3 linked regions of the Homo sapiens genome follow. The protein of the gene in region 1 purifies or fractionates together with the protein of each later gene. This does not show direct contact. Each region holds a gene or a part of one and is shown on either strand. Other genes may lie near its edges.

Evidence for each region. Proteins that work in one complex are often made in the same cells at the same time.
Region 2: the proteins of ELAC2 (region 1) and RNF123 purify together in Homo sapiens (co-immunoprecipitation; 3 studies listed by BioGRID and IntAct, with this or other methods). This does not show direct contact.
Region 3: the proteins of ELAC2 (region 1) and TRMT10C purify together in Homo sapiens (co-immunoprecipitation; 3 studies listed by BioGRID and IntAct, with this or other methods). This does not show direct contact.

What each region holds. Positions count from the first base shown.
Region 1 is NC_000017.11:13,014,909-13,022,418, forward strand, and holds the start of ELAC2 (zinc phosphodiesterase ELAC protein 2), read right to left. Parts: upstream 3,120-7,510; 5' UTR 3,040-3,119; coding exon 2,795-3,039; intron 2,757-2,794; exon of another isoform or gene 2,659-2,756; intron 2,214-2,658; coding exon 2,163-2,213; intron 2,025-2,162; coding exon 1,954-2,024; intron 925-1,953; coding exon 860-924; intron 1-859. UniProt on the Homo sapiens protein: Zinc phosphodiesterase, which displays mitochondrial tRNA 3'-processing endonuclease activity. Involved in tRNA maturation, by removing a 3'-trailer from precursor tRNA.
Region 2 is NC_000003.12:49,706,538-49,713,792, reverse strand, and holds part of RNF123 (E3 ubiquitin-protein ligase RNF123), read right to left. Parts: intron 7,003-7,255; coding exon 6,895-7,002; intron 1,315-6,894; coding exon 1,137-1,314; exon of another isoform or gene 901-1,136; intron 281-900; coding exon 206-280; intron 56-205; coding exon 1-55. UniProt on the Homo sapiens protein: Catalytic subunit of the KPC complex that acts as E3 ubiquitin-protein ligase. Promotes the ubiquitination and proteasome-mediated degradation of CDKN1B which is the cyclin-dependent kinase inhibitor at the G0-G1 transition of the cell cycle.
Region 3 is NC_000003.12:101,557,137-101,565,103, reverse strand, and holds the start of TRMT10C (tRNA methyltransferase 10 homolog C precursor), read right to left. Parts: upstream 3,237-7,967; 5' UTR 3,101-3,236; intron 335-3,100; 5' UTR 323-334; coding exon 1-322. UniProt on the Homo sapiens protein: Mitochondrial tRNA N(1)-methyltransferase involved in mitochondrial tRNA maturation. Component of mitochondrial ribonuclease P, a complex composed of TRMT10C/MRPP1, HSD17B10/MRPP2 and PRORP/MRPP3, which cleaves tRNA molecules in their 5'-ends.

The sequences.
Region 1 (7,510 bases):
AGAGGGAACCCGCGGAAGGGCGAAAGTCCTGAAGTGGCCAGGGAGTTAGAGGGACATAAGAGTCAGCCCATGCAGCTGCAGTTCAGCGATGGGTACAGATGGAAGTGTGGGTAGCGGCCGGGGCCTACAGGACTTGTAGGCCATATCAAGGTGTTTTGATTGTATTGCAATGGGGAGCCCATGAAGGGCTTTAGGGTGGCAAGTGACACACTACTTTTCTGTCTTGAAGTGACCTCTCTGGCTGCTGTGTGGCAGATGGATTACAGGAAGGCGAGAATGAATATGGGAGGCTATTGTAGTTTACAGGCATAGAAAACAGAAATAAGGAAGGCCTCAATAAGAGACAAATGGATGGATTTCAAACGTTATTTTGGGGAAAGACTTAACAGGTCTTGGTGACTTTCTTCTTAAGGACTGGAAAATGAACTGTTATATTCAACAACACACACACGCCTTCTCAAGAGTGTAATAAGCTGGACTGAAAGGTAAGAAGATGTCAGAAATTTATTGAATAAAAACAAAAGCTGCCCTTTCTTGTGTGCCTACTTGGTGCCAAACATATATCTAATAAAGTGATTTAGTGCTTTATATGTGCTGCTACGTCATTTAATCTTTAACAACTCTATGAAACGTGATAGTCATCTTATAGATGAATAAACTAAAGCTCAGAAAGGTAAAGTAACTTGATCAAGGTCACATAGTTAATCAGAACTCAAGTCTTTTTAACTTGAAAGGGGAAGCGTTTCAACGACCAGGTATCTCTGGAGGGCAGAAGACTGATTTGCAAAAAGGAAAATTCTTGTTACTGATATTACAAAAGGAAAGATTGCTTTTGAAAGATGTGTCAGGAAAGACTCACCAGTTGTGGAGGTCCAGAAAGTACACACTTTGGAAGCCCGGTTTCCTTTAAAGTAAGAATCATTCCTAAAAAGGATGCATAAAATCAGATCTCTCATCAATTTGACCTGTCGTCACTAACAGGAGGAGCACCCCGTACTAATCCAACTATTTATCTACATCTCCACCTTCCAGCTTTGGAAGTACAACCAGGGAAGATGTACAGAGCAGAAGTGATGCCAGCTAGAGGTGTAACAGACACCAAATATTCTTTAAATGCCTCTAGAATGGGCTGAGCTGTCACTAGGGTGAAGCAGCAAGGCACCCAGTGTGCAAAATGTAAGGAATCATGCAAGTGAAGGGCTGGCACCCTAAGTGCCTCACCCTAGTCTCAGCCCTGAGAAGGGAGACTGGTCTAACACTTCACTCCTTCCGGTCCATGCCACCAAGCCCACACAATTTGGCTGCAACACAATCCTGACCTTCCGGTTGATAGACATAAATGACAGGGTAATCTGGACAGTGGGTATGTGTGTGGCTGCCAATGTGCCAATGGCGTCTGCGGTAAACATATTAACTGTAATCACCACTGCTAGACTCTCCAGTTTACTGCCACAAATCTCTGTCCCCGCAACGCAAGAAACTAAGTGGATGGTAACACTTAAGAGGTGGTATCCATATTAAAATCTGTTCTCCTGAGTCACAGCTTTTAATGCTCTGTGCTGCTGCTGACTGGGCTGGTATAAAAAGAATTCCAGGCCAGGTGCGGTGGCTCATGCCTGTAATCCCAGCACTCTGGGAGGCCGAGACAGGAGGATCGCAGAAGTTTGAGACCAGCCTGGGCAACATAGCAAAACCCCGTCGCTACAAAACATACAAAAAAAATTAGCCAGGTGTGATGGGGCACACGTGTGGTCCCAGCTATTTGGGAGGCTGAGGTGAGGGGATCACCTGAGCCCAGAAGGCAAAGGTTGCAGTGAGCCAAGATCACGCCACTGACAAAAAAAAAAAAAAAAAAAAAAGTAGCTGCCCACCCCAGACTTGGAAAAATGGTAAAGCCGGTTAAAATCCCAGAGACTTCCCACCAGCCTCTGACACTGCAAAGAATATACTCACCACTTAAGCCCCCAACATTAGACCAGTGCATTCGTGTCAGGAATATGTTGTCCAGGCGAGCAACCTTTAACCTAAGAATGAAAAAACATTTAAACAGGATAACATGAACAGAACAAGGACCACTTTTGCTATAAAAAACAACTGGCCTCTCATTTCGGCTTTCAAGCCCCGTAATCAACTCCCCCTCCGAAAGCAAGAGACTGACTCACTTGTGCTCCTGCATGAGTCTCTGAACGCCTTCTCCACAGTTGAAGAGATACCTACAAGACAAACATTACACAAGACATTCAGAAGGTTTTATTCTGTAAACTCTCTGACACCAATTAGATGTTTTATTGTAGACTCTGGAAAAAAAAAAAAGAAAAAAAAATTAAAAGTCCACGTTGGACTACCGAGCCACATTTATGCTGGTGGGTTTTGAGCCCTCCTTAGCAGAGGTGGAGAGGAGTGGGGGCCTGTGTGTGTGGGTGCTAGGACAAAATGAGTCCTTTCTCCACCACCGGCTACACACCAGATCTGTCCACCCCACACGCTAACAACGACACACTGGCCTTGGGGTGCACGGAAGAGGGTGGAGCTCCGAAAGTGCTGACAGCCAGGCCGGGGCCCAAGGGTTGGGAAAAGGACGCTCAGACCCAGGCCTGAAGTTCTTCACAGATCCGCAGAAATCACATGGATGCAAAGAATCTCGGATTTCCCACCCACCATAACTCCACGAACCCCCGCAACAGTGAACCACATGTGTGAAGCAGGGAAGCCGAAGCCCTGGGAGGTGCCCCGATGCTCAGAGGCTGCGCCGCACTGAGGGCCCAGCGGGACGGGGCGTGGCTCGTTGACTGACCGGTTGAACTCGGAGAAGACGTAGAGCGCGGCGCCCGAGTCCCGGCTACCCGCTGCCACCACCTGCAGGTACACGGTGTTTGGGCCGCCGGAGCACCCCGACGGTCCGCGCTTCTCTCGCGTGCGCAGGTGCCGCAGCGGGTCCTTGCGCGGCCGCTCGCGGCGGGCGGGTGCCTGCGATATGGTGCGTCCCTGCGACATGGTGCGTCCGGCCGCGGACCGCAGCAGCGAGCAAAGCGCCCACATGCGCCCGTCTCCACCAAAACTGAGAAAGCCGCCGGTCACCTACGCCCGCGTTTCCCGTGCACCACCTAGCCGCTCCGCATGGCGGATCCAGCCAATCAGCGCGCCGTGCACCGAGCTTCCCGCCTACGCGAGGCTGCTCATCCAATAGAAAGGAGCTTTACCGCTCGGGACTTGTCAATTGACAGTGGCCATAGAGTAGAGGAATACTAGAGCGTCTCAAGCGGCCCCGCCCCTAGTTCTGTTCCGGTTTGCCGGCCGCAATTTTTTCCGGAAGCTGTTTTTCTCCTGGGGCGGGACTTCCGGAAGCACAGTGCCAGGAAAAGCCTTCCTGGGGAAGGCGGGACCTAGGAGTTTGGAGTTTCGCTAAAACGCTCCTGTTCTCACCAGATAAGAGCTGTGTCCTCCGGGCACGTCAGTCCCTCAGAGCTTGAGTTAGAGGTGGTTGTAGTGGTTGTGAGGATTAAATGTGAGGAAATCAATTGTATTGAGCATTAGCATAAGCGCTTTGCTAATTTTATTTCCATTGTAATTCGTATGCATACATGTTAGAACTTGATCATTTTTACGTGGTGTCCCGAGCTTGTAGTCCCAGCTACTTGGGAGGCTGAGGCAGGAGAATCGCTTAAGCGCGGAGGCGGAGGTTGCGGTGAGTCGAAATCGCGCCACTGCACTCCAGCCTGGGTGACACCTCGAGACCCTGTCTCAAAACAAAACAAAACAAAACAAAAATTGTAGTGTTTTTTGGAAAGAAAAGCAAGAATAGAGGACAAGCTCTAAAGCAAGAGTCTTGGCTCATTTGTTAGCTGCGTGATCTTGACCTCTCAGAGCCTCAGCTTTCTTATGTGTAAAATGTAATAACAGCAATAACAGTATCTCCTACTTCAGAATATAGAATTCAGTCACCTGATAATATATCAATAGACCTTTGAGTGGCACTGTCACAGAAGAGGCACCCAGTAAATGATAGAAAATTAATACAAAATGTTTCAACTCCTAGACAATATAGCTGACCAGGGACATCACAGAGGTAGATGTCCCAATACCAGCTTTTTGAAAAAAACACCCAGTCCCCTCTTATGTAGCTAATGAGGATTTCTCACTGAAAGGGATATCAGTTAAAGCCGCTAGAAATACAGGGAGCTCCCTTAAAAGAGGAAGATAATTTACCTGGAAGCTCCACTCAAATATGATTTTTTAAAGATAATTTACCTGGAAGCTCCACTGACATATGATTTTTTTAAATAAATACTGAAAGATGTCACTTTTATTCAGGAAGTAAGGGAGATTCAAGTCATGTAGATTCCTACTCGAAAATCTTGACACCTGACTTTCCAGGATCACATTTTCATATGGAGACCAGTTTCCTCTTGGTTTCTTCAGTTAAGTCAAAACTACACGTTCCTCTTTCCCCATATATTTTTGCTCATTAGTGTATTTCTTGAGCTGTTTTCATTCAAATATGAAATTTTTTATGGAAGATTATCACCCACGGTGTGAAAACGTTTTGTACTTGAAATAACCATCCCAGTGAGGGTCAGGAAAACACTTCAGATCTACTTTACACAGTTAGAGGGCGTTACAAACTGAAAAGATTATCATACCACCATCTCCATAAGTATTTGAAATAAAAATGATAGTTTTTAAAAGTTGCTTAAAGCCTGGGCACCGTGGCACATATCTGTAATCCCAGCACTTTGGGAGGCCAAGGCGGGAGAATAGCTTCAGGCTAGTAGTTCAAAACCTGCTCTGTGGCCAGGCATGGTGGCTTATGCCTGTAATCCCAGCACTTTGGGAGGCCGAGGCAGGTGGATCACCTGAGGTCAGGAGTTCGAGACCAGCCTGGCCAACATGATGAAACCCCGTCTCTACTAAAAACACAAAAATTAGCCGGGAGTGGTTGCATGGGCCTGTAATCCCAGCTACTGGGGAGGTTGAGGCAGGAGAATCACTTGAACCCCAGAGACAGAGGTTGCAGTGAGCCAAGATCACACCATTGCACTCCAGCCTGGGTGACAGAGGGAGATTCCATCTCAAAAACAAACAAACAAACCAGCTCTGGCAACAAAGCGAGACCTCATCTCTACCAAAAAATACTAAAAAATTTAAAAATAAGTAAAAATTAGCTGGACATGGTGGCACACACCTGTTGTCCCAGCTACTCTGAAGGCTGAGACAGGAGGATCACATGAACCCAGGGGTTTGAGGCTGCAGTGAGCTATGATCATACCACTTTACTCCAGCCTGGCTGACAGAGTGAGACACTCTCTACAAAAAAAAAAAAAAAAAAAAAAGAAAAAGAAAATTAATTCATTAAAACTACTTTTAAAAAGTGTAGTGCAATAAATAAAATACTGATTTTTTTCCTGTGATGACTGCTTTGATCCTTTTAAAAAATATATCAAATTTCACAAACAAAAATACATTGGTTCCTCTATTTTATTGGTGCCCTATGTGCATATCTATCTGTTGGGTAATCTCAAACTACTTATCTCAAAATTATAGGAGGAATCACTTTTGGTCATCGACTTATATAAAATTCTGAGGGCTGGATGCTATTTAGGTTGTTTCTAGGGCCCAGTGTACTTTCTGCACTTATGCTTTGGGTCATATTTTTATTCCTGGTATATGAAGACAATAGCTAGTACTTCTTCAATCTGAGGTTATACTGGAATGTAAATTTCATGAGCCTGGGATTTGTCTATCTGGTCCTCTGCTGTATCATTAGCTCCTAGGACAGAGTCTGGCTTGTGGCAGACAATAAATACTAGGAAATTAGAAGCAAGCCAGTAGCTTAAATGAGGTTTTCAGTTTACAACTAAGCAGGGCCTAAAATTGAATCAAGACAACAATGTATGTGTTTTCTGAAGGGGATTGGTGTGACTGGTACCTCCAAAAGGATAGTTCAGAGAGTCTGAAACAGAAAAGTGTCTCTGGACTTGCTGGAGTAGAGGCAGCCTGACCATCGGGACAGCAGAGAAAGTGGAAATCGAGGCGACAGACTTTCAGAAGTCAGTGATATTAACAATTAATATAATACAGCCACTTCCTCTTGCTTTGAGTCTCTTTTTGTTATCCATTTTGTATATGGGCAGCTTGTGGCTTGAAATCACTTTCAGTCCTTTTGTTGGTCACGGTTGTGTTTAGTAAGAATAGCCTGTCTCTGCTCCTTGCAGTGGCTGCTGGGTGGCTCAATGGGAGTGGAACCTCACACTCACAGGTGTGGGTCCTGGGTACTGGCCCTGCTGGGGGTGCTTTGGTTCATTTCCCATTGCCTCTCCATCCATGTAGACTGTCCACATTCAGTAGTTAGGCTGAGCTTCTCTGAATGGTGGTCAGCCTCCAAAAGGATGAAATGAAATTGCAATGCTTCTGAAGAATTAGGCCCAGAAGTCAACGCAAGACACAGACAGCACCCACCTAGATTCAAAGGGAGGAAAATTATATTCTACCTCTTGAGGGGAGAAGTATCAAAGTCACATTGCAAAAGAGCCCTTGACGTGGAAAAGTCCAGGCTTTCTTGGAACCCTCTGATTATCCTACGGGGGGGTCCTATGAAGAGATGGCTGCCAGGCAGAATAATCTGGCCAATGAATGCTGGGAGCAGTACATTTTCATATGCCTGTAGTTACAAAGGTATAATTTATAACTTGACTTTCTTCTGTACACGCTTGTAAGTATGGTTGCCATAAGCTAGTCCACTCATATGTGGCCATCTCTTGGGTATATTTATAAATCAGACTTTTGTACCTACAAAGCTGGGGCAGTTCCTGCGATCCCCAAGATCTGGTGATCTGACCAAGGGACACATACTTTGGGACCCTGTCTGAAATACCCTCTGGCTTTCTCCACACAGACATTCATTCATTGATTCATTCAGTACACTCACACACACACACACACGAGTTTCTAGACACTCTTCTAGGGTTCTAGATGCTGTACTAAGACCTTGGTGTACAGAAAGATGAACAAGGTCTTGCTCTCAGAAAGCTCAGAAAGTTGGTGTCTTGGGCACAGGGATGGGGCCCCAGGGCACACAGGAAAACATTATAATAGATGCTTTTGTCTTCATTGGGTCTGAGGTGTTTCTGGTTTAGAGCCCTAGAAACCCAACAACTCCAAACTTGATGGCCACAATGCATCAGAGGGATAATTGGTTTTTGAAACAAAAGTTACTTTGGGCTGGGCACGATGGCTCACAACTGTAATCCCAGCACTTTGGGAGGCCCAGGCGGGTGGATGACTTGAGGTCAGGAGTTTGAGACCAGCCTGGCCAACATGGCGAAACCCCGTCTCCACTAAAAATACAAAAATTAGCTAGGCGTGGTGGTGGGCACCCGTAACCCCAGCTGCTCAGGAGGCTAAGGCAGGAGAATCACTTGAACCCGGGAGGCGGAGGTTGCAGTGAGCCAAGATCGTGCCATTGCACTCCAGCCTGGGCAACAGAGCGAGACTCAGTCTCAAAAAAAAAAAA
Region 2 (7,255 bases), on another chromosome or scaffold:
GAGTGTGGGTAGCACACGTAGCTGGCCAGGGCCTGCATCAGTGAGTCTCGGATGTCTGCGGGGACACACCGTGCCTCAGCAGGGGCTTGGCATGAGCCCTGGACCCATACTTCATGCCCACCTGGCCACATTTTTCATAGAAGAAAGCCGACCAGAGGTGCCATCCCATCCCCCTCCCCCTGTACCCTCTGTAGGGGCCCCTCACCAGTGCCCACAATGCGTGCGTCGGCAAAGTGTTTGGCGAGAATGGCAGCCAGGCGGGTCAGGGTCTCTTCATAGCCTGCAAGGGTGGGAAGTGAGACGTGTCGGCTGGGAGTGGGGGCTCCAGAGGCAGGCATGTCAGCAGGGTGGGTGGACTTGGGTAGCAGGCTCTAGAGCTGGCTCCCAAGGCCAGCCTGGACCCAGGGTGGCATCTGGGGACATCGGGCAAAGCATTCATTGGTGGCTGTGCAAGGGCTAAGGCACAGGCTCACTGTGAAGGGATGACAGGCCCTGGCAGGAGCCCTGACCTGGGCTCAAACCCATCTCAGCACACACACCTGATGAGCAGTCAAAGCTCCTTGGGCACTCACAGCTCTGTCTTTGAAGACAAAGCCTGCACTGAGGCCTGTGGCTGGGCAGGGGGCAGGCTAGGGGCCTGACAGCTCACTGCCTGATCCAGACATACACTGCCACGCCCAGCCTGGAATCAGCAGGCTGAGAGGCCCAGGTTCGGATGTGGACCCTAGCAGGGTCCACCCCCTGCTGTGATTTACCAAGACAAACCATTCTGCCCCTGACCAACTGCTACGCTTTGTGACCAGTGCCAGGGAGTCAAGGTGCAAGGCCAGCTGGCTCCTGGACCATGGCAGTTGCTCATAGCACTAGGAAGGAAGTGAAAGCCAAGAGGTCTACACCCACCGTGTTCCATCTTGTCTGTTTTCCTTTGCTAGGGAGCTGTTGGCTCTGTGGCTGCAGGTCCCAGGGCAGGGTGCAGACGTTTGTTTGCTGCAGGGTGAACCACAGAGGAAGCTCCTCCCCTCCCCGCCCCCCACAGAAGTGTGTTGCTGGGCCACAGAGGTCTCAGACCAGGGCTCCTAGGGCTCACACTAGAGACCCCTTTTCTGCTTCTGCCTCAGCCTGAATGGTTCCATCACCTGGGAGCTCCTCCATGCTGTGCACGGGACCAAAGTAATTCTTGAGAGCACTGTAGCTGTTGATGGCCACGCTCAGGTAGAACTCGGGCATGAAGGCAAAGAGAGACCCTGTGCGATCACCGTGCTCAATGGTCCGCAGGCAGACGCGCAGCAGCCAGTAGATGTCCAGCATCTTCTCCTGCAGGAGGCACACGGGGTGCTGCTGGGTTGCGCACCAGTGGGGTCTTGGGGGCATGTCCTGGCCTGGGGATCAGGAAAGGCCTCCCCAGGCCTACGACAGCACAACTGAGACCTGGATTTCAGGAAGCATGAGCAGTAGCTCAAGCAGGGCAATCAAGTCCTCAGCAGGCAAGAGGGACGCACTCAGCCTGGAGGGCGCATTACTGTGACCCAGGCCAGAACTCTGGTCAGCATATTTGTAAGCAAGTTTTTTTTTTTTTTGAGATGGAGTCACCCAGGCTGGAGTGCAGTGACGCCCTCTTGGCTCACTGGAAACCTCCGCCTCCCAAGTTCAAGGGATTGTCTTGCCTCAGCCTCCCGAGTAGCTGGGACTACAGGTATGTGATACCGCGCTCGGCTAATTTTTGTATTTTTAGTAGAGATGGGGTTTCGCCATGTTGGCCAGGCTGGTCTTGAACTCCTGACCTCAGGTGATCTGCCTGCCTCAGCCTGTAAGCAAGTTTTAGGCAAGAGGGTGCTGTGACTGGAAGTCTGTGTGGAAAAGTGGAGTACAAGGTGTGTGAAGGGCCCAAGAGAGCTGGCGATGGTAAGCAGACAGGCAGAAATTTGATCTGGAGTGCAAAGGAGAAGGTGGTGGGAAAGCAGGGGGCAGTGTGACTGGTGGAACAGAGGTCACAGGAAACAGACAAAACCTGCTGAGGGCCCTGCTCCCCACAATGTGGTTTCCACAAAGTCTATGTCAGGGTCTCACAAAGGAGCCCAGGCAAGAATGAGGCCTCAGGCCCCAGCCCAGACCCACAGCACCCGTGTGTCTTGGAGTGCGGTCACAGCACCTGGGCTTCACACCAGCTCTCTGATGTGCCCTAAAGCCCAAGGAACTGAGGAGAAGATGTAAGCAAGAGGTTAGGGGAGGGCCTAGGCGCAAACCTAGGCAGCGATGATCCTGCTGCTACAGAAGGCCAGCGAAGACTGTGTCTGGTGAGGGGCTGGCAATGGCCCCATCAGAGCTAAGGTATCAATGCAAAGGAGATGGAAATGTGCCGGCCGGATTGAGATGGGGGCAGACAGAGACCCTGGTGAGACTATTTCAGAGATGGGGAAGAGCCTGTGCTGGAGGGAGATGAAGGGGAAGATGTAGCAGCTAAGACAGAGAAAGAAGGAGAGAGCATAACTTTTGGGCACATATAGCGTCAAGGCTGGAATGCAGTGGCACAATCACAGCTCACTGTAACCTGGAACTCCTGGGCTCATGTGATCCTCCTACAGGTATGTGATACCACGCCCTGCTAATTTTTGTATTTTTAGGAGAGATGGGGTTTCGCCATGTTGGCCAGGCTGGTCTTGAACTCCTGACCTCAGAGTAGCTGGGACTACAGGTATGTGTCACCATGCCCCGCTAATTAAATTTTGTTTTTTTTGTAGAGATGGGTTGCCCAGGCTGGTCATGAACTCTTGGCTTCAAGTGATCCTCCCGCTTCAGCCTCCCAAAGTGCTGGTTTACAGGAGTGAATCTCTCCATTAATAATGGGATTAGAAAGACACAGGTGAGTTAGTGCTGAAGATGCAGAGAATGAAGGCAGTTCAACATAATAAAGACCATATATGAAAAGCCTCCATCTAACATCACACTCAGTGGTAACAGACTATAATCCCTCCCTCCCTCAGACCAAGAACAAGACAAGTGTGCCACTTTCTCTACTTCTGCTCAGCACAGTCCTGGAAATCCCAGCCAGAGCAACTAAGCATGAAAAAGAAAGGAAACCACACTGGAAAGGATAAAGTAAAATTATCTCTGTTCACAGACATGATTTTATAAGTAGAAAATCCTAAAGATACACACACACACACAAAACCCCAACTAGGATTAATAAATAAATTCAGCAAAATTATAGGATATGGCCAGGCGCGGTTGCTGAAGCCTGTAATCCCAGCACTTTGGGAGGCCGAGGCAGGCGGATCACCTAAGGTCAGGAGTTTGAGACCAGCCTGACCAACAAGGTGAAACCCCATCTCTACTAAAAATACAAAAATTAGCCGGGCGTGGTGGCGTATGCCTATAGTCCCAGCTACTCAGGAGGCCGAGGTGGAAGAATCGCTTGAACCTGGGAGGCAGAGGTTGCAGTGAGCCAAAATCTTGCCACTGCACTCCAGCCTGTGCCACAGAGCGAGACTCCCTCTCAAAACAAAACAAACAAACCAACAAACAAAAGATATGCAAATGGCCAATAAGTGCTTGTAAAGGTACTATTTGTCATAATGTCACTAATCATTAGCAAAATGCAGAACCACAATAAGGTACCATATCCTACCCATTAGGATTTACTATTAAAAAAGTAGAAATTGCCGGGTGTGGTGGCTCATGCCTATAATCCCCGCACTTTGGGAGGCCGAGGCAGGAGGATTCCTTGAACCCAGGAGTTTGACAACTGGGCAACATAGTGAGACCCTGCGTCTACCAAGAAAAAAAAAGGGCAGAAAATAAGAAGTGTCGGTAAGGATATGTATGGAGAAATTGGAACCCTCATGCACTACTGGTGAGAATGTAACAGGCACAGCCACTGTAGAAATGATATGGTAGTTTCCAAAAAATTAAACAACAGAATTGGCCGGGCGCGGTGGCTCATGCCTGCAATCCCAGCACTTTGGGAAGCCGAGGCAGGCGGATCACCTGAGGTCAGCAGTTCAAGACCAGCCTGACCAACACGGTGAAACCCCATCTGTACAAAAAATACAAAAATTGCAGGGCGCGATGGCTCACGCCTGTAACCCCAGCACTTTGGGAGGCCGAGGCGGGCGAATCACCTGAGGTCGGGAGTTCAAGACCAGCCTGATCAATATGAAGAAACCCCATCTCTACTAAAAAAAAATACAAAATTAGGCCAGGCGCGGTGGCTCACGCCTGTAATCCCAGCACTTTGGGAGGCCGAGGCGGGTGGATCACGAGGTCAGGAGATCGAGACCATCCTGGCTAACACGGTGAAACCCTGTCTCTACTAAAAATACAAAAAATTAGCCGGGCGTGGTGGCAGGCGCCTGTAGTCCCAGCTACTCGGGAGGCTGAGGCAGGAGAATGGTGTGAACCCGGGAGGCGGAGCTTGCAGTGAGCTGAGATAGCGCCATTGCACTCCGGCCTGGGTGAAAGAGTGAGACTCTGTCTCAAAAAAAAAAAAATACAAAATTAGCTGGGCGTGGTGGCACATGCCTGTAATCCCAGCTACTCAGGAGGCTGAGGCAGGAGAATTGCTTGAACCTGGGAGGCAGAGGCTGCCGTGAGCCGAGATCGCGCCATTGCACTCCAGCCTGGGCAAGAAGAGCAAAACTCCACCTCAAAAAAAGAAAAAAAAAATCACAAAAATTAGCCGAGCATGGTGGTGCGCACCTGTAGTCCCAGCTACTCGGGAGGCTGAGGCAGGAGAACACTTGAACCCAGGATGTGAGCCGAGATCGCACCATTGCACTCCAGCCTGGGTGACAGAGTGAGACTCCATCTCAAAAAAAATAAAAAATTAAAATTAAAAATAAAATAAAAAACAGAATTACCATATGATACAGTAATTCCACTTCTGGGTATATAACCAAAAGAATTGAAATTAGGGTCTCAAAGAGATCTTTGCAAACCCATGTTCATTACAGCATTATTCACAGTAGCCCAAAGTAGAAGCAACCCGAGTGTCCATCAGCAAAGGACTGGATATATGAAATGTGGTGTCCGTACAACAGAATATTATTCAGCCTGGAAAATGAAGAAATTCTGACACATGCTATAACACGAATGAACCTTGAGGACATTATGCTAAAGCCATACACAAAAGAACAAATAGTGTATGATTCTTCCTAGATGAGGTGCTTAGTATAGTCAAATTCAGAGACAGAAAGTAGGATGGTGGTTGCCAGGGGCAACCTGAGCTAGCCTCAGAACAGGGCCATGGTGGTCCCCTCATGACATGGAAGTAAGGCCCAGCTGGGGGTCTGTGAGCCGCTGGCCAGAGCACTCAGGGACCTGATGCCAGAACCACTGCTCCCCCAGCTGCCAGACCCAGGGATCTGCTGACAGGTGGGGATGGGTGGGAGCTGTCAGGGAAGCTGGGGAAGGGAGGACAGGAGGTTTTGTTCAACAGGCACGGAGTATCAGTTTTGCAAGATGAAATGAGTGTGGAGATTGGCTGCACGACAATGTGAATAGACTTAACACTTAAAAATGGCTATGATGGGTGACCGGGCACAGTGGCGCACGCCTGTAACCCCAGCACTTTGGGAGGCCGAGGTGGCAGGATCACATGAGGCCAGGAGTTTGAGACCAGCCACGCCAACAAAGTGAAACCCTGTCTCTACCAAAAAATACAAAAAGTAGCTGGGCGCGGTAGCACATCTATAATCCAGGAGAACTGCTTGAACCCGGGAGACAGAGGTTGCAGTGAGCCAAGATCATGCCATTGCAGTCCAGCCTGGGCAACAGAGTGAGACTCTGTCTCAAAAAAAACACAAAACAAAACAAAACAAAAAAAACACAGCTAGGATGGTACATTTTATGTCACACATATTTTAGCATAACTAAAAAAAGGCAGAGAGATGAGAGGGCAAGGGTCTTGAGAAGACAGTGTGGGAGAGGGCAGCCAAACTTCTGAGGGAGGTGGGCAGGCAGGAAATCTCAGGGCAGAAGGGAGAGGAAGTTCCCGTCATGGGGCAGTAAGCACGGTCATCCAGGGTAGCAGGAGAGTCACGAATGGGAAAAAGGTGGAGGTGGTTTGGGTTTTGCAAAAGAGCCATGAGAAGAAACAGCAAGCAGAGATGATAGAAATGGGGATACCAAAGGCCTCGATCACCCAGTCATGCAGGGGTATGCCCAAGAAGACAGCAGATACCCTGACCTGGGCACCTGAAGAGACCCTCAGGGCACTCACTGGTTAGGGAAGAGATGCCAAGAGGGGCAGGGAGAGGAAACAAGTCCAGAGAGTCTGAGGCCTGGGGGTGAAACTTCAGTCACAGCAGGAGTGCCCCATCCATCTGTCTGTCCATCCATGTATCTGACCAGGCTGAGTGCCTTCAGAAGGCAGAGGCTCATCTTTCTGACTTATTAATGTGTGTGTGTCCCTAGTTCCAGGACAGCACCTGGCACACACCAGGTTTTGAGTGCATGTTATTGAATGAATGAGCAAGTGAATGAGTGAGTGGGGAACAAGCCAGTGGCCTCGGGTGGTAATGAGTCAGACAGAGGCAGGCACAGATGGTGGAGTGTGCCTCCGGGAAAGACTGCAGAGCCCCTGATGCACTGGGAGAGAAGGACGGGGGCCAAGAAACTGGGAGGGGGTGGGAGCAGGGGAGGCAGACAGACAGAGTTTGTTCCTCGAAGGACAGGTCTATGAGGCGAACTGGAGGTCCAGAAACTGCGCTTCCTCAGTCCACAGAGCATGAGGGGTACAGGGGACATGGCATGGGGTGATGGAGTCTGAAGTGTGGGAAGGGACATGTGTGTGCCAGAGGCCTGAGAGGGTGGGGGCATCAAGGGCCCTGGCACAATCTTGCTAGACCCGTGGCCAGACAGTGAGGTCGGGAAGGGGCAGCTGCAATACCAGCACACCTGGGAGTAGACAGTGGCATGGACCCAGGCAAGACGGCGGCTCAGGTGGTCCAGCTTTTCTGAGAAAACCTTCTGGCTCTTGGTCAACTCTGCAAGGATGTCCTTCCTCTGCCACCCAAGGGGAAAGGAGGACAATCAAGACATGGCCCCATACCCAGGTCCACCCTGATCCTGCAGGCAGCCTAGGAAGGGCCCTCTAGTGCCTGGAGCAGGCAAGGGATTGGGCTCCATTTTTCAAAACCTTCTTCTGCCACTGACCCTCTGGTGACCCTGAGCCAGCCTCAGAACAAGGCCATGGTGGTCCCCTCATGACATGGAAGTGAGGCCCAGCTGGGGGTCTGTGAGCCGCTGGCCAGAGCAC
Region 3 (7,967 bases), on another chromosome or scaffold:
CTTCTCTGCCAAGCAATCTCCACATCTCAATGAACTCTCTGGTGGCAGCTAGAGGATCTTCATCCTTACTGCTTGAGATTGTTGAAACACATTCTTCTTGCACACTAGATTTCATGGTAGTTTTCCACTTATCCAACTCTAGCTCTTCAGAAGGGGGTGTACTCTCATTTTTAGGATAAGTAACAGCTGGTATTTTGGAAGACATGTATCTCTGCAAAATTGTTAAGTTATTTCTCTTCCTATGAAGGGTAAATGGCACCAAAAACCTGGTGAAAGGTCTGAAGAAATTGACACTAACACTCATTTTGAGGAAAGCAGCCATGTAACAAAACCCCTGTAAAAGAAGAAAAATGCAATTAAAAATTAGACAAAGATTTTTATAACTTCTCAACTAATTGTGCAAGTATAAATTTGAAATAGCAAAATAAAATCAATTTTTGAAACACAAGGTAAAATCTTTGTACCAATTTTTTTCCTAGACTCCTGTGGTCTACAGCCTGTGATCACTCATTGAGTAAAAAGTTTAAAACTTAGTTGGGTTCTTGGCCGGGCGCAGTGGCTCATGCCTGTAATCCCAGCACTTTGGGAGCCTGAGGTGGGTGGATCACCTGAGGTCAGGAGTTCAAGACTAGCCTGGCCAACATGGTGAGAAACCCCATCTCTACCAAAAATACAAAAATTAGCCAGGTATGGTGGCAAGCACCTGTAATCCCAGCTTCTCGGGAGGCTGAGGCAGGAGAATTGCTTGAACCCGGGAGTTGGAGGTTGCAGTGAGGCGAGATTGTGCCACTGCACTCCAGCCTGGGTGACAGAGTGAGATTCTGTCTCAAAAAAAAAAAAAAAAAAAGTTGGGTTCTTATTTTAGACATGAATTTCACTATTGCTTTAGCTAAAAGGATAAGTTGAAGATCCTTTTTAGATTTTTATCTAGGGGCCCAGAGAATCAATGTTACTGGGCAACAAAGTTATGTACCACCGAGGCAGCTGACATCATGATGCTGCATACTCCTCCATTCTACACTAAGCCCAGATACAGAACCAAACATAAGATCCTTCACAAAAGCAACAAATAAAGACAAAGGACATGAAAGGTACTGAGAATGGCAACAGGTAAAAAGCACTTAGAAACTGCTGTACCAATGCCCTCGTTACAGAAATATACCAAGATCTACTGATCAAAAAATAGCAACAAATTCTTCCCCAGTTCAGGCTTTATTTTGCAGCAAATAATGTTATTAACAAAGAAAATGTCCAAGATTGAGACAAATGTATATAAATGTATATAAAGCTCCACAGTTTTATCCTAAAAGCCTGGATGTCCATGAGATATTGAAGATGCTTAAAGATGTAAAACTTGTCTCAAATTTGAAGGAAAAGAAATAAAGGGAATTCAAATTTTTACAAAATGCAAATAAAACACTTGAAAAATTCCTTCTTCCCTTGGCTTCATTTAATGACCCTGCACAGGCTCCTAGGTTTCCTGCTCTCTGACCTGTGCACTGATGTCCAGATGCCCCTCCCTTAAAGGTGGATGTAACTCCGCATTCTATCCTATTCTTTTTTTTCAATCTATACATTTCCCTTCTGAGATGTGACCTACTTCTGTGGCTTCAATGACCATGCATTAGAAAGACATCTCAAATGCAGGCCGGGTGCAGTGGCTCACTCCTGTAATCCCAGCACTTTGGAAGGCCGAGGAGGGAGGATCGCTTGAGGTCAGGAGTTTGAGACCAGCCTGACCAACATGGCGAAACCCTGTCTCTACTAAAAATACAAAAATTAGCCAGGTGTGGTGGCGCATGCCTGTAATCCCAGGTACTCGTGAGGCTGAAGTGGGGCGATTCTTCTACTTCCCAGGTACTCGTGAGGCTGATGTAGAAGAATCGCTTGAATAAGGGGGGCGGAAGTTGCAGTGAGCCGAGATTTTGCAACAAAATCTGTTGCAGTGAGCGACAGAGTAAGACTGTCTCAAAACAACAAAAACAAACAAAAAACACCTCAAACGCAACAAATCGAAATAACCCCTCTACCTTTGCTTCACAATCTGATCCTCCTTCAATGTTCTGTTTCAAGGGATATTGCTATCCATTGGTATTGTTCCCAACATATATTTCTAAGCTTATTGCGGCCAGGTCAGCAGCATCTCTAGCTATTCTTCACCTCACACTTCAAGTATTCCACCATTACTTTTCACAGCACTCTGGTGCCTATGACAGTACTTCTAACACTGCACTGTAATTGCCTGGTTATCTATTTGCCTCACTAGATGGTAAGGACTAACTAGTGTCCATGAGGACAAGGACTTTGTCTATAATGTTAACATTGAATCCAATGCTTGACAGTATTTGGCTCACAGTAATCACGCAAATATTTTTCTAATACCCTAGATCGATGCTTCCTTCATTAAAAAAAAAAAAAAGAAAAAAAAAGTTCAGCCTCCCTTTATTATTTTTTTTGAGACGGAGTCTCGCTCTGTCACTCCAGGCTGGAGTATAGTGGCGCGATCTCGGCGCAAGCTCCGCCTCCCAGGGTTCACGCCATTCTCCTGCCTCAGCCTCCCGAGTAGCTGGGACTACAGGCACCCGCCACCACGCCCGGCTATTTTGTATTTTTAGTACAGACGGGGTTTCACTGTGTTAGCCAGGATGGTCTCGGATCTCCTGACCTCGTGATCCGCCCACCTCGGCCTCTCATTGTGCTGGGATTACAGGCGTGAGCCACCGCGCCCGGCTCAGCCTCCCTTTAAAGAGAAAACAATTTACTTTAGAATCCCGGAAATATTTAACTGGGGTCCCCAGGCCCCAATCTAATAAACATTGATTTCAGAAGGAGTTTTAAAAGTTTTATTCTTGTAACTGGCAAGGACTTAGAATACCACAGAAATGAAAACCCCAATTGTAAAAAGCAATCAAGTACATCATTTCAGGAACCACTGATTTTGTTTCAGGTACTGTACTAGTTATAGTTTATTAAAATCACTGGGCTTCCTCTTACCCGTGGGCCTTCCGAACGCACATGCTCCACTAAGTGCATCTTGGAACGTCTCCGGCGTCCTCCCACCCCCAACACACACATTAGGCGAAAGAAGAAACTCGCTTACCAGGAGTGCAGAGATAGTGGTTCCCGCTGGCGCAAAGAACAGGGACCCTGGAGGACGAAGGACTCCGACGTACGGACGCCCAGGGATCCGCGCCGAAGCTAGCACGCAGCCTACCCAACAGTCTACACAGCCGACCAGAGCGGTCGCTGGGGCTCAGCCGGAAGTTCCGCCCTCTCCCTTCCGGCGCTGCTTTTTACGTCACAGCACGCAAAGAACGCTTTCTTGGCTAAAAGAAGCGCCTTAGAGGAGACGGCTGTCAGTAGGCAACTGGGTACTCGAAGACTACGCTCTCAGTTGTCACGGAGTTGTAGCTGTGTTGTGTTGTGTTTTCCTCCATATATCCTAAAAACTTCTTCTGGGCCGGGCCAGTTGGCTTACGCCTGTTATCCCAGTGCTTTGGGCGGCCGAGGCGGGCGGATCACTTGGGGTCAGGAGTTTGAGACCAGCCTGGCCAACATAGTGAAACCCCGTCTCTACTAAAAATACAAAAATTAGCCAGGTGTGGTGGCGCGCGCCTGTAATCCCAGTTGCTCGGGAGGCTGAGGCAGGAGAATCGCTTGAACCTGGGAGGCGGAGGTTGCGGTGAGCTGAGATCGCGCCACTGCACTCCAGCCTGGGCGACAGAGCAAGACTCTCTGTCTCAAAAAAAAAAAAAAAAAAAAAAAAAAACTGTTTCTAATCCTCTTTTCAACCTACTCTCTGTTTGGGCCCTGTATTTATAAACATTTGCTGACAGAGTACTAAAATAAAGTATGTTTTTTTCACACGTCTTCTTACTCAGCTTCAAACTCCTTGACGCTAGGACTTTAAACTCCTAATCTTTTTGACCAGTTTATCACCAGTACCTGGCACTATGCTTGGAACGTGATAAGCCACGGTAAGTTTCTGTCTCCTCCTAGCTCATTTGGAAAGTTTAATGTGAAATGAAATTAAAACACATTTGTAAATTGGTGGCCTTTGGGGCCAATTCAGCCTCCACATATATTTGTAACCAAACACAGAATGAACATATTCTGCAGCCATTCTACTCCTAGTAATATACCCAAAGAAATTGAAAGCAGAGACACAAACAGACACTTGTACTCTAATGTCATTGTAGCATTATTGATAATAACCAAAAGGTGGAAGCAACCCAAATATCCATGAACAGATGAATAGATTAAAAAATGTTGCATGTACATACAATGGAATATTATTCAGTCTTAAAAAGGAATGAAGTTCTGATACATGGTACAACATGGATAAACTTTGGAGGCATTATACACTGAGATAAGCCAGGCACAAAAGGACAAATATTGTATAAGTCCACCTATATGAAGTGCCTAGAATAGTCAAATCATAAAGAAAGAAAGTAGAATAGTGTTTACCAGGGGCTGGGGAAAGGGAAGAATGGGCAGTTACTGTTTAATAGGTATGAATTTTCAGTATGGGATGATGAAAAAGTTCTGGAGATGGATAGTAGTGATGGTTGTACAAGAACGTGAATGTACTTAATGCCATTGAACTGTACACTTGAAAATGACTAAAATGGAAATGTTTATATTGTATATAGTTTACTAAAATAAAAGAAGGTAGGCATAGTCTTTTCCAAATGATTTTAAAAAACGAGATCTTGTCTAAGAGACTGATTACTATCATGTTAGAAAGGTGAGGTGGTGATAGCAAAATAATCATGAGTTTACTCCCAAACATGGAAAAAAATCAAGAATAAATATCGTCTAGTAGTTATAACAAATAGCAGTGTAGAGGTTATTTTTTCTTGTTCCTGTTCTTTAAAGAGATACATCTGAAGTTTTTCCATTAATATTTTATGAAGGTTTTTGCTATATGATCTTTGTCAAGTAAAGGAAATTTCATTCTGTTAAGTTTACTAAGATTCTTTATGTGAAAAATCTTTGGAAGTGTTTCTATAAATATAGCAGAACATAATTTATTCAATATGTCTGGGATCTGACCTATTCTAGATTAAGAATATTTCCAGGTTTCAGACATCTTACCTCCAACAAAAAGCACAGTGATTTTCAAAATACGTTTTTTTGTTTTTTTTTTTTGAGACGGAGTCTCGCTCTTTCACCCAGGCCAGAGTGCAGTGGCGCGATCTCGGCTCATTGCAAGCTCCGCCTCCCGGGTTTACGCCATTCTCCTGCCTCAGCCCCCGAGTGGCTGGGACTACAGGCGCCCGCCACCGCGCCCGGCTAATTTTTTGTATTTTTAGTAGAGACAGGGTTTCACCGTGTTAGCCAGGATGGTCTCGATCTCCTGACCTCGTGATCCGCCCGCCTCGGACTCCCACAGTGCTGGGATTACAGGCGTGAGCCACCGCGCCCGGCCTCAAAATACATGTTTTGGCATAGAAAAATAGCTTGTAATATGGGATGTAAGGTATCAAAAAAATAAAAAATAAATTGTAGGCCAGGAGCAGTGGCTCATGCCTATAATCAGCATTTTGGGAGGCCAAGGCAGGCAGATTGCTTGGGCTCAAGAGTTCCAGACCAGCCTGGCCAACGTGGTGAAACCCTCTCTCTACAAAAAATACACAAAAAAAGAAAAGAAAAAGAAATAAATTTTAAAAGCAAGGAAATATATAAAAACCCATAAGACAATGTCACATAAACACTAGAATTGAAAAACTAGAAGGTCTGAATGCTCTCTCTTGGCTCATATTTCTTCTTGGAAACAATGGTTAGACCTAAATAAAGGCTGTTTTGTAGTCAAGGCACCCACTCTCCAGTTCCCCAGAGCTTATTCCACCACATGTTATCTTTTCTACACTGGTGCAAATGTCATTTGCCATGTATTTTGCCTGCACTGTTTATTATATAATAGAGAACGATTTCTCTATACCAACGTCTCTTTCAAGAGTTGGAAGACAAAGCATGGATTCAAAGATTTAGGTGTTACTTACAAAGTAGAGAACTCTTGTATTTGATTCTCTGCTCTACCTTCAATGTCTACAACAGTGCTTGGCAAGTATCGGAAACTCAATAATAATTTGCTGATGAATGAATACTAAATAGATCAGGTAAGTGATGTTAGTGGCTTGGACAACAGTGGTGGCAGTAAAGGCAAAGAAAAGGGGGAATATTTGAAAGATATTTAAGAGCTGGACATGACAGAATTTGGTGATCAATTTGGGAGAGAAGGAGAGGAACAAGTCAATAGTCTGGTTTGAGCACCTGGGCAGACAGTGAAAAGGAGTATATGGTGTGAGGGCAGAGATGGTAAGTATAGTGTTAGACATGCGGCTTTTCATCTCTCTTCAAAATAGCCAAATGATATCTCCTTTAGGATATTTGGCAGTTGGCTGTATGGGTCTAGAGTTTAGGTGAAAGAAGAATGCACCAAAGATACATATTTGAGAGTTATTAACATAGAGTCTGTGAAACCATATGGGTGGAAGAGATTACCTAGGGCTTGGGTAGAGAACAGGAATGGACAAAAGAAACTGAAAATAAGCAGCTAAAGAGATGGGAGGAAAACAACCAGAATATGACATAGAAATCAAGGAAAAGGTGTTTTCAAAGACAAGTGGATGGGTAACAGGGTCAAATATTGCCTAGAGATCATGCAATGCAGACTGAAAAGTATCTACTAGATTTAGCAATACAAGGGCCACTGGGACCTTCATTGTGAGGTTTGGGGGCTTTAGCCAGATGAGAGTGAATAAGGAATGAGGAGATTATGAGAAAATAGAATCAGCAAGTTTAAACATTTCTATGAAATTTGTCTAAAGAAAAGACAGCGTGCTCAGTCCCTGGATGTGGAGTCCAGGAAAATTTTCTTCATTATTATTATGTTAGATTGGGAGAGGCCTGACATTTTAAATGCTGTTAGAATCATCAGCAAAGGGGTAAGAGAAAGAAAGGATAATGGGATGGGTAGACTTCCTGAGAAGATTAACAGAGATGGTATATAGAGGAGAGATGCTATTTAGAGGAGAGATGGAGAGATTGGTTTCGTATAAGAGGAAGAAATACCACTTTCATTGTAACAAGAAGAAAGGAAGAAACTTAAGGTGGGTATGGAGGACAATTTATAGACATGATGGCTATAATTTGATACAGTTCGCATTCTCTGTGAAAGAGGTAGACAGACTACCTCTGCGGATACTAAAGATTGGGTGAAGGTTTGTTATTGTCATAAAGAATAACATATAACAAATGTACAGAAACAGAAAGTAGAATGGTTGTTACTGTGGAGTCCTAATTAGGGAAAAGGAGTCAGGCTGGCGGGACCAGAGGAAAGCAAAGAGATAAAGCAAATAAGCTATAAATATGCCTGTCTTCACGGTTCAGGACATATAAACAAAAAAGGAAGAGGATGAATTATAGGTCTGTTTTTCTTTATGCCCAAGGACATATTGCCCAATACATATGGCCCTCCTACTCAGATAATGTACGTAACTCAAAAACTTACTGCTTACCAACAAACGCCTCAATTTATCAAACATCTCAGCTGACAAAAGAAAGCAAGTTATGCTGCCAGTGCATTGGCATTATCAATCAGCCCAAGTTCTATGTTATAAAATCTCCAGCTAATCTTTGTCTCTTTGCAGTCGGCTCCTCTTTTGCAGCCTTCCGGTTGCTTTATTGCAATGTATTTTCCTACTTTCTTTCTCTCTCTCTCTTTTTTTTTTTTTTTGAGAGGGAGTCTCGCTCTGACACCAGGCTGGAGTGCAGTGGTGCGATCTCAGCTCACTGCAACCTCCGCCTCCTGGATTCAAGCGATTCTCCTGCCTCAGCCTCCCGAGTAGCTGGGGCTACAATCATGCGCCACCACGCCCAGCTAATTTTTGTATTTTTAGTAGAGACGGGGTTTCACCATGTTTGCCAGAATGGTCTCAATTTCTTGACCTTGTGATCTGCCT